Linked DNA regions of Homo sapiens: region 2 is linked to region 1. Evidence: fine-mapped expression QTL. Tissue or cell type: whole blood. Region 1 holds a variant in brackets; the other region holds the start of a gene. All regions are shown on one strand. Distances are from middle to middle.

Region 1 (5,257 bases):
GTCCTCCTTCATAGAGACACAGGAGGTAACAAAAAGGTGGGCTGTTTCTCACAGCACCAAGCTGGGCCCTGCTTCAGGACCAGGATGGCAAAACTTATACAACACTCACTGCTATGGGCCTTGCCAAATCTGGGTGTCACAGATCATGTGAGGGAGCAGAGGCACCTTCTCCAAGATCACCCAGTGATGTGTGCATTGTCTGTTCATTCATTCGTTCACCCTGATGTTCCTCTGTGCCCAGCCCAGAGATACCAGGCAGAGTGAGGCTGAAGGAGCCCATGGTCTGGGGCAAGGTCTCACCCACAGGCCTTGTAAGGCTGAAAGCCTTCTGCAAGGATTTCAGAGGCAGTGACAGCTTCCAGAGGCCCTGGGACTTGTGGCCTTGCAGCTCTGAGCCTCCCTACCCCCATCCCTGGCCTTTATAGAGCAAACAGGCTGGATTAGCTGCCTCCAGAACGTCCTGGCAGAGTCTGGGCCCTGGGCCAGGTTCCAGGCTGGCAGGTTGGAGGGTGGGGAGCGAGCTCGAGTAGGGCCTCTGAGTTCCCTGCCCCCAGTTCCTGCCAAGACTGCCTCAGTTTCTCTCCCATTCCTTTTTCCTACCATGCAGGGCTCCTTCCTCCCCGCCCCACCACCGCCAGTGGCAATTCTCACACACATACTCCATCCTGCATTCTTTCATCGCAGTCCTGTGGGCCGGTTCTCACCTTCACATCTTTGCTTTCCTGCTTTCCTCACCTTGGAATGCCCCCTAGGTCCTGTCCACCAGGAAGCTCTGGCCTCATTTGGCCACAGCCTAGAGTCTTGGGCCTTCTTGCAGTTACTCCCTCCTAAAGTGCTCTCCTGTGTTCTGTGGTCTCAGGCACTTCCTTTTTTGTCACAAGGCCTCAGTTTCGTCATCTGAGAAATGGGAAGGGTTAGACACAAATCTCTCTCGTGGTGGAAAAAGCTTGTGCTTTGGAGTCATATGGAGCTGAATTCCATCCAATCCACTTAGTTCCTTAACTTTTATGAGCCTCACCTTCCTCATCTGTTAGATGGGGTCTTATAAAAACAGACAGCACACACTGCGGTGAGGCTTCACTGACGACGTGGATGGTGCTGGCATTCATTGCCCTCCCCAGCAAAGGCCCCTCCAGCTGTGCTGGGCTCTGACTCCTGCTTCCCTGGCTGGCCGCTTATTTAATGGTAGGCCTTGGCATTGTCGCCTTCTCTTCCGGGAGCCCAGCCCGGGCCAAGTGAGAGAGTGAAGGGGGAGATGGGGTGTAGTGGAGCCTGGGGCTTGAGCTGCCCTTGTCCACAGACGCCATCCTGGGCCTGGAGGAAGTGCGGCTGACGCCATCCATGAGGAACCGGAGTGGCGCCGTGTGGAGCAGGGCCTCTGTCCCCTTCTCTGCCTGGGAAGTAGAGGTGCAGATGAGGGTGACGGGACTGGGGCGCCGGGGAGCCCAGGGCATGGTGAGTGTCCTCTCCCAGAGCTGACAGAGCGGGGTGGGTCAGGGAGGCGGGTGATGAGCCCCGGGGTCCCAGTATCCCACACGGTTCCCTGAGCTGAGGGGCTGGGGACCTGCAGGCCGTGTGGTACACCCGGGGCAGGGGCCATGTAGGCTCTGTCCTTGGGGGGCTGGCTTCGTGGGACGGCATCGGGATCTTCTTTGACTCTCCGGCAGAGGATACTCAGGTGCGTAGTGGTCTCCTGCCTGCCAGCCCGCCTGCCCGCTCACACCCTCCCCCTCCCGCCATGTCCGCGGCTCAGGCTGCTTCTCACCTCCCTGCAGGACAGTCCTGCCATCCGTGTGCTGGCCAGCGACGGGCACATCCCCTCTGAGCAGCCTGGGTAAGGGCCTGTCTGGACTGACCACTCACCTCCATTTTTGCACTGGGAGGGGCCCATCCCCCCCATCCGAGCCCCTGCCCCAGCCTCCTCCAGCAGGGGGCCCACCCTGCCGGGCCGCCATACTTGCTGGACTCTCTCACTTAGCCGACGTCCGCCCCCCTGGGGCTTGATTCCTTCGACCCAGCAGCCCCAGGTGAAATGACACAGGCTGGGGCCTG[T/C]GATGAGTATCTTTGCTCCCATGATCTCATCCCATCTCCAACACCCTCCATAAGTGGGGGGTTATTCGTCCCATTTACAGGTCAGGACATTGAGCCCAGAGAGGGGAAGGGATGTGCCGTGCGCAGTGCTGAACTTTGAGCCCAGACTTACCCCTGGAGGGTCCTCGCCCTTCCCTGCATAGCTGTCCCTTCCCTTTCCCCTGATGATTTGGCTTCTGTCCCTCCCCGGCCCTACTGCCTCCTCAGTAGCTGGGCCGGTTTGTCAGTGTCTCTCAGCAACCTTCTCTCGGCTCATAACAATTAGAGTAATTGCCTGCATTTATGGAGTGAGCTGATTGTATGCCAGGCACAGCACCAAGCCCTTCTCATTTACTGTCTTAGTTAACCCTCATAACATTGTTATGAGGTCGTTCCAATTACCATCCTCGTTTTAGAGATGGGAACACTGGGGTTTGGAGAGATGAGATGGCTTGCCCAAGGTCACATAGCTCGGGGCACAAACCCAGGTGGCTGCTGTGGTGCTGGCTTCTCCCCTGCCCTGTGCTGCCTCCCTCTTGGCGGAAGGCGGCACTGTCAGACGCTCTGCTGTGAGTAGCCTGAGGTGTCCAGAGACACTCAGCGTTTAACACTCTTCTCCTGACTCCCCAGAGCCTGCCGAGCCGACCTGTCAGGGAGGCAGCCTGGTCACATTGTCCTTGGCTGCCGGGACATGTCCAGGTCATCCGTCCTGAGTCAGCTGCATTCTGAGCCCTGGCAGCTGGGAGAGGAAAAGGAAGCCAGAGGCACAGAGGACTTGGAGTTTAAAAGAAGGAGGAGGGAGAGGCCAGGCACAGTGGCTCACGCCTGTAATCCCAGCATTTTGGGAGGCTGAGGCGGGCTAATCACCTGAGGTCAGGAGTTTGAGACCAGCCTGGCCAACATGGTGAAACCCTGTCTCTACTAAAAATTAAAAAAATTAGCCGGGTGTGGTGGCGAGCACCTGTAATCCCAGCTACTCGGGAGGCTGAGGCAGGAGAACCGCTTGAACCCAGGAGGCAAAGGTTGCAGTGAGCCGAGATCGCGCCACTGCACTCCAGCCAGGGCAACAGAGCAAGACTCCGTCTCAGAAAAAAAAAAAAAAAGAGAGAGAGAAGAAGGAGGGACGTAAGGGTGATAGGACGAGGGTGATAGGTGGGTCGGGGGAATGGAGGGCAGAAACTGTATTGTTGGTCCAGGCCTTTGTCCCCTTAAGGAAGGGCCACAGGGAGGCCCCTGGCCCCTTCTGTAAATCCAAGTCCCAACACTCCGTCAGGCAGGGCTTGCTTCCCCTGCTCCTCTCTCTTCTGCCAAGGGAGCAGGGTACAACAAGGGAGACTCAAGCTAGACAAGGTACATGTCCCATGCCAGCTCGCCCAGCGGAAAGGGAGGTGGCACAGCAAATCTGGGCAGAGTGGCTTCTGGGACTGCCCTCACTGTCCAGGCCTTGAGTCCTGTATATCCTGGCTGGATTCCAACTGCCCACAAGAGTCAGGCATGGTGGCTCACACCTGTAATCCCAGCACTTTGGCAGCCAAGACAGGTGGATCACTTGAGGTCAGGAGTTTGAGACCAGCCTGACCAACAATGTGAAACCCCATCTCTGCTAAAAATACAAAAATTAGCCGGGCATGGTGGTGCATGCCTGTAGTCTCAGCTACTTGGGAGGCTGAGGTGGGAGGATCACTTGAGCCCAGCAGGCAGAAGTTGCAATGAGCCACAACTGCACCACTGCACTCCAGCCTGGGCAGCGACTCTTTCTCAAAAACAAACAAATGAACAAACTGCCCACAGGGATGGAGCTAGCCAAGGGCTGGGCTCCTGTCATTGGGACTTCCGGAACCGGCCACACCCCTTCAGAGCACGGATCACCTACTGGGGGCAGAGGCTGCGCGTGAGTCACCCTTCCTGCTTCTGACAGGGCTCTGAGTTACAGAGCTGCTATGTGTGCGTGCCCACGGCCCCAACACACCAGTGCCTGTGACACCACGTGAGGTCCCTGGCACACACGGGCCAACATCCACAGGGGATCCTCCATCCCTACACAGAATCCTAACACTCACCCAGAGCACATACATGTAAGGGCTCACATGAGACCAGGAGTGCGGGTCACCTCCATGCCATTCTGATACCAAGCCCTAGGGCCACCTGCCATCCCACGGCCAGGGGAGCCAGGGAGTCAGAGGTAGGGACACCCCCCCACTGCTCACTCTCTCCATGTCCCTCAGATGTCCTTGAACAGTGGCCTCACTCCCAGTGATCCAGGTGAGTTCTGTGTGGATGTGGGGCCCCTGCTTTTGGTCCCTGGAGGTTTCTTTGGGGTCTCAGCAGCCACCGGCACCCTGGCAGGTGAGGATCCCACTGGACAGGTAAGAGCAGAAGGGCAGTGATGAATAAATCACCCTCAGCACACCTTCTAAAGAGCACTGGGGTGGCGTCAGCCACTTCACCACATGACCTGGGCTTCTGTGACCCTTGGGAGAAGTCATGTCTGCCTTGAGACTTGCAAGTCTCAAATGGGATAAAACAAGAGAAGCTTTGATTTCAGTGCTGGCCACATAAGTGCCCCTAGCTGTGAGTTGCGGGACAAGTGGAAGACAGACAGCAAAGAGGGGCATTTAGGAAAATGGAGCAAAGAAATGTGACACCATGGAGAGTCCACGGAGGGTCCCACAGCGGGAAAGCTGAGGGCAACCAGAGCGTGGGAGTCCTTGAATGCCAGGACCTTGGTCTGGTTTCTGAGGAGGAGAGTGACATGGTCAGAGCTATGCTGGAAAGGTGGCCACTGTGCAGTTGCTACTACCAGTAGCAGCTGTGCTCTGGGGGCCTAAGAGTGTCAGATGGTCTGCTGCCATGGCTCTAGCCCAGGATGTTTTGGGATCGTCCAGTTCTGCCACAGGGGCCTGCCTCTGACTGAGTGTGAGGTTCAACCCTCACCACCCACCCGTCTACCTGTCAACCCTCACACCTTTCCTAGGAAGTAAGCAAGACAAGCATCAGACGGTGGCCCAAAGTCACCCCTCTTGCCTCGGTGGGATATCATGGCGGTTAGGGTGAAGGCTGAGCGAGGGGGTTGCTGGGTGGAGGGGTCTTACTTCTCCTTCATCTGTCCCCTTCCAGATGATCATGATGTCCTGTCCTTCCTGACCTTCAGCCTGAGTGAGCCCAGCCCAGAGGTGATGCCAGCCCT
Region 2 (5,000 bases), 90 kb after region 1:
GAGTATCTGGATCCCAGCTCCCCATCACTAGGAGAAGAGGAAAACAGTCAGTTCCGGGAGGTACCTGTGGTGCACAGCTGTAAATCATCAGGCGGAGAGCATGCAAGGGCATCTGGAAGACTTTTGAAGCAAAGGCCACACACAACAGAACTCAAGTCCGAACAGGCCTTGAATAATACTGGTTCCCTCAATTGGTTCTGGCAGGGACAGGGTCACTCTCACTAACAATGCAAACATAACAGGGCAGGATGATCCCCCGGACATTGGTGCTCCGAATTCTAGAGCAGCACGATTACCTATGAGTCTTCTAACCAAGCCATCCTGGGAAGGGATATTGTTCAGAAGAGAACGGCCCTGGAATGTACATGAAGGGCCTTGGAGGAGACAGGGAACAAGCAAAGGCATCAGGCGATCTTCAGTCCCAGCCAAGTTGCTTCCCAAGGGGGTATTTCCAAGGGGAGCACTCACCTGTCAGAGTCGAGGGACACCAGGTTTTCATCTGGACTCTGGCTAAGAGCAGTATAGCCCTTGTTAAACTTCACTGACCTGAGGGGAGACGGGGGAGAAGAGACCAAACATAGATGAAAGCATAGGCATTTCACAGGGATAGGCAGAGTCCTCGCCCTGAAGGAGAAAGAATTGACTGCACTACTGACTTGCCTTCTCCCTGGTCACAGCCACCACTGCCTGCAGCTCCATGTACCTGGCTACAGTGCCTCAGAATGTGTATGTTCTCATTCTTTTTTTCTTTTTTTGGAGACAGAGTCTGGCCCTGTCACCCAGGCTGCAGTGCAGTGGCGCGATCTCGGCTCACTGCAATCTCCGCCTACCATGCTCAAGTGATTTTCCTGCCTCAGCCTCTTGAGTAGCTGGGACTACAGGCGTGCCCAGCTAATTTTGTATTTTTAATAGAGACGGGCTTTCACCATGTTGGCCAGGCTGGTCTCGAACTCCTGACTTCAAGTGATCCACCCGCCTCGGCTTCCCAAAGTGCTGGAATTACAGTCGTGAGCCACCACGCCCGGCCTGTATTCTACTCCTCCCATAGGTCTTGGAAAAAAGCACACCTCCCCTTGCCTGATCTAGGAAAAGCACCCTCTCCCCACTTATTTAATCAGAGGACACAAAAACTGCAAGTCTTTGGGTAAAAGGTTAGGGTTAACCTTCACTTCTCCGAGTTTCAACCCTCATCTGTAAAAGGAGGCACTGAATAAGGTTCTATGCAGCTCCGAGTTTACTATTCTGTTAAAAACAAACAAACAAAAACAGGTCTAGCCATTCCCACACTGCTCTTCGTCCTCATTGCTGGGGACTCCAGCCACCATTCTCCTCCCTAACAGAGGAGGAGAATGATAGTGAATGAGCCTGTGCACTCACAGAACTCCCTTATTCCGAAGCCCTTTATCTGATCCTATCACATCCTTAAAGGAAAAGAGAGATTGTTCCTCTTCCCATTTTAAAGATAGTGAACCTGACAGGTTGCATCAGGGGAATCGCTAGCTCGGCCTTAAACCAGAGCACCCTGCCTCCGTCCTGGGGATTAAAGCCTTCTCTAAAGCTGCTGGCACAGAGGAGGTGGCGCCTGCTGAGACCTTTTCCCTGAAGAGTCTGGGCGGTTCGGCGAGGCCCCCAGCATGCCTTTTCTCCGCAGAACGGCCTTGGCCAGGTCCCGGTGCTTCTCTGGAAGTTAAAGGACCCGGGTCAGCCGGGTCTTCCCCACTCCGCCGCGTCTCCCGAAGGCTGGGAGGCCGCTCTTTCCGAACGGATTTTGAGGGGCGAGAGCAGGCTGCAGCTAACCCCTTCCCTCCGGGGCCGAGGCCCAGCGGAGCTCCGGAACCCGCCCTGGGGACGCGGCCGCCCGCCCAGGGAGAAACCTCCCCCGACCATCGGGCCACACTCACGCAGCTTGGCTTGAATGGAGGGTGCGCGCGTCACCATGTATGGCCCCCGCTTTTCCACGGCCGCGGGGGTGCGCTCCCCCAGACGGAGGGCTCTATTACCGATCTGCCCGGAGGGTGGCCCCGCAGCTCCCGGCGCGCGGTCCCGAGCCCCGCTGGGCCGGGGTCCCGGGGTAGACAACCGCAACGCGCGCCCGCTGGGCTCCGCGGTCGCCATGGCCGGGCCCCGCCCTGCCGGATGGTGCAACCCCGCCCGTGGCGAAAGAGTGACCGGCCGAGGGAGAGGCGGGCTCTTTTAACAAGATGGCGGTGCGCAGGCGCAGGTAGTCCCCTTTCGGAGCTCTCCGGTTCGGTAGTCTGAGGACTTGGCCGAAATGTTCCGCCCTTCTTTTCGGGGGGACCGGGCAGTTCCGTTCTCGGTTTTGGGGTAGGCGGCTTGAGCCTGGTGATGGTTAGGCTTAGTTCTGTCTCTAGTGGAAATTAAATACTGATACTGTCGTGGGGCTGCGCGTGTGCGTCGGTCGGGTGCCCACGGTTTGAGTCCTGGCGCGCCGCACTCTGTGCTTCTCGCAGTGTCTCCTTGGGGGTCTCCCCACATGTGGGGCTGCCAGAGAGCAGACTTGGGTTGAAGAGTCATATGAGGACAAGCGTTATCAGCGACCTTTTCTAGCAAAAGAAACAGGCCCCAGAAGTTAAAGAACCTTGTGAAGGTGACACATCTAGAGGCAGTGCTTGCGCTGATCCATCTGACGCCAAACCCCACCTTCTTTCCAACACCAATTGGTGCCTGTGACATTGGACAGGACCTGACCCTCTCTAGGCCTCAGTTTCCACATTTAAAAATAGAGCCAATGTCACTACTCATTGTACAGTGAGGCAAATAGGCGTTGAAAAGGAGGGTGAAAGTGCACTCTGAGTCTGTGTGTGGTAGGCTATGTGTCAGGGCTCTTGACTTCTCTAGCCCCCAAGGGATGTGCTTGTGACTGGCTGGAAAGAAACTCCAGATCCTTGTAGAACTCCCAAATCTCATGAGGCTGTCCCTTGACTAACTTACTGGCTTCAATAGGGTAGGTCAACAGTGTGCAACCTCCGAGCTCCCAGGGCCACGCAGACCGTTGGGTGGCACTATGCCTTGGGCAAGAGAGGTGAAAAGGAAGAATTTAGGGCTGAAGTTTTCAAAAATCAAAAGCACAAAGGAATCCTTACCATTTTGGTAGATTCCCCCCACTCCCCATGATGTTAGACTGTTTTTGCCTCCAGAAACAGCAGGTTCATATAGCTCAACTTAGTATTTAATGGTTATAACCTCCCAATGAAGCCAATAGTTATTCTTGTTAAACAAATGAAGCTTAGACTTGGTCAAGTTTACCAGTTAAGTGATAAACCTGGAATTTGTACCCAGTTGCCTGTGGACTCCAAAGAAGTAGTTTTCTGGCCGGGCACAGTGGCTCACATCTGTAATCCCAGCACTTTGGGAGGCTGAGGCAGGCGGATCACCCGAGGTAGGGAGTTCAAGACCAGCTTGGCCAACATGGTGAAACCCCATCTCTACTGAAAATACAAAATTAGCCGGGCGTGGTGGCGGGTGCCTATAATCCTAGCTATTCAGGGGCTGAGGCAGGAGAATCGCTTGAACCCAGGAGGCGGAGGTTGCAGTGAGCCGAGATCAGGCCACTGCACTCCAGCCTAGGCAACAGAGCAAGACGCTGTCTCAAAAACAACCAACCAACCACCCCCCAGCCAAAAAAAAAAAAAAAAAAAACCAACAAAAAAACAACGAAGTGGTTTTCTCCTGGTTATGCTGATGTGGACATCACCAAGGGCCAAAGAAAATGTGATTTAAACCAGCAGTCTCCAGCCTTTTTGGCACTAGGGGTTGGTTTTGTGGAAGACAGTTTTTCCACGGGGTGGAAATGCGGGGGCTGGTTTTGGGATGATTCAAGCACATTTATTGTGCACTTTATTATTACATTACAATATATAATGAAATAATTATACAACTCAACTTAGAATCAGTAGGAGCCCCAAGCTTGTTTTCCTGCAACTAGACGGTCCCATCTGGGTGTGATGGGAGACAATGACAGATCATCAGGCATTAGATTCTCATAAGGAGCCCACAACCTAGATCCCTTGCATGTGTGGTTCACAATAGGGTTCATGCTGCTATATGACTCTAATGCCACGGCTTATCTGACAGGAGGCGGACGGAGCTCAGGTGGTAATGTGAGCAATGGGGAGCCACTGTAAATACAGATGAAGCTTTGCTCACTCATGGACCAGTATCCATCCATGGCCTGGGGCTTGGGAACCCCGACCTAAACCCACTTAATGTCACAAGATCACTAGGAACTTGTAGCAAAAGTGTGACAGCCTTCATGCACACTCCTCCCAATCTTCCATCAATAATGCTGTTAACTGCTGACTGATTGAACATAGACCCTGAAGCCAAATTATTTGCTCTGTTACCTACTGGCAAATTATTAAACCTCTTTATGTCTCAGTTTCTTTAGCTAAGTGGAGATAAGAAAACCCATCTAATGGAAGTGGAATTGTGAAGTTCAGTTGTAAAGTGTTTAGAATGACACCTGGCAAATAGTAAGTGTTCAAGAAATATATGCTATTATTTACACAACCCTTATACAGCATTACAAGGATTTAGTGTTTATTCTCTCATTTGACTTTACACTCCCCAAGGGCAGACCTTATTCACTTTTTAGCATAAGGTTATAGTAATAAGTATTTGTTGAATTAATATCCTATTTCCCCTCTTTTAGTTAACTAGTATCATAGAACTTTGGGGCTGGAAGAGATCTTTTTTTTTTTTTTTTTTTTTGAGACAGAGTCTTGCTCTGTCGCCCAGGCTGGAGTGCAGTGGCGCGATCTTGGCTCACTGCATGCCCTACCTCCCAGGTTCACACCGTTCTCCTGCTTCAGCCTCCTGAGTAGCTGGGACTACATGCGCCCGCCACCACACCTGGCTAATTTTTTTTTGTATTTTTAGTAGAGACGGGGTCTCACCATATTAGCCAGGATGGTCTCAATCTCCTGACCTCGTGATCCGCCCTCCTCGGCCTCCCAAAGTGCTGGGATTACAGGTGTGAG

Evidence for each region. PIP is the estimated chance that this variant, and not a neighbour inherited with it, causes the effect.
Region 2: it holds the start of FAM219B, and the variant in region 1 is fine-mapped to the expression of FAM219B in whole blood (TOPMed, PIP above 0.99).

What each region holds. Positions count from the first base shown.
Region 1 is chr15:74,814,857-74,820,113 of GRCh38, forward strand. It overlaps LMAN1L (lectin, mannose binding 1 like), which reads left to right. Exons shown (of 14, transcript NM_021819.3): 2 at 1,301-1,455; 3 at 1,571-1,678; 4 at 1,776-1,834; 5 at 3,862-3,961; 6 at 4,296-4,416; 7 at 5,188-5,243. Among named protein-coding and RNA genes, the nearest start is that of LMAN1L, 4.6 kb to the left of the region's middle. RefSeq lists an enhancer at 5,000-5,257. The variant T/C (reference allele first, on the strand shown) is at 2,053.
Region 2 is chr15:74,904,686-74,909,685 of GRCh38, forward strand. FAM219B (family with sequence similarity 219 member B) reads right to left here and starts at 2,166. Exons shown (of 5, transcript NM_020447.5): 1 at 1,902-2,166; 2 at 1,593-1,680; 3 at 469-546; 4 at 1-27. The coding sequence starts at 2,115. RefSeq lists enhancers at 776-1,582, 1,583-2,387, 2,229-2,508 and a silencer at 1,869-2,168.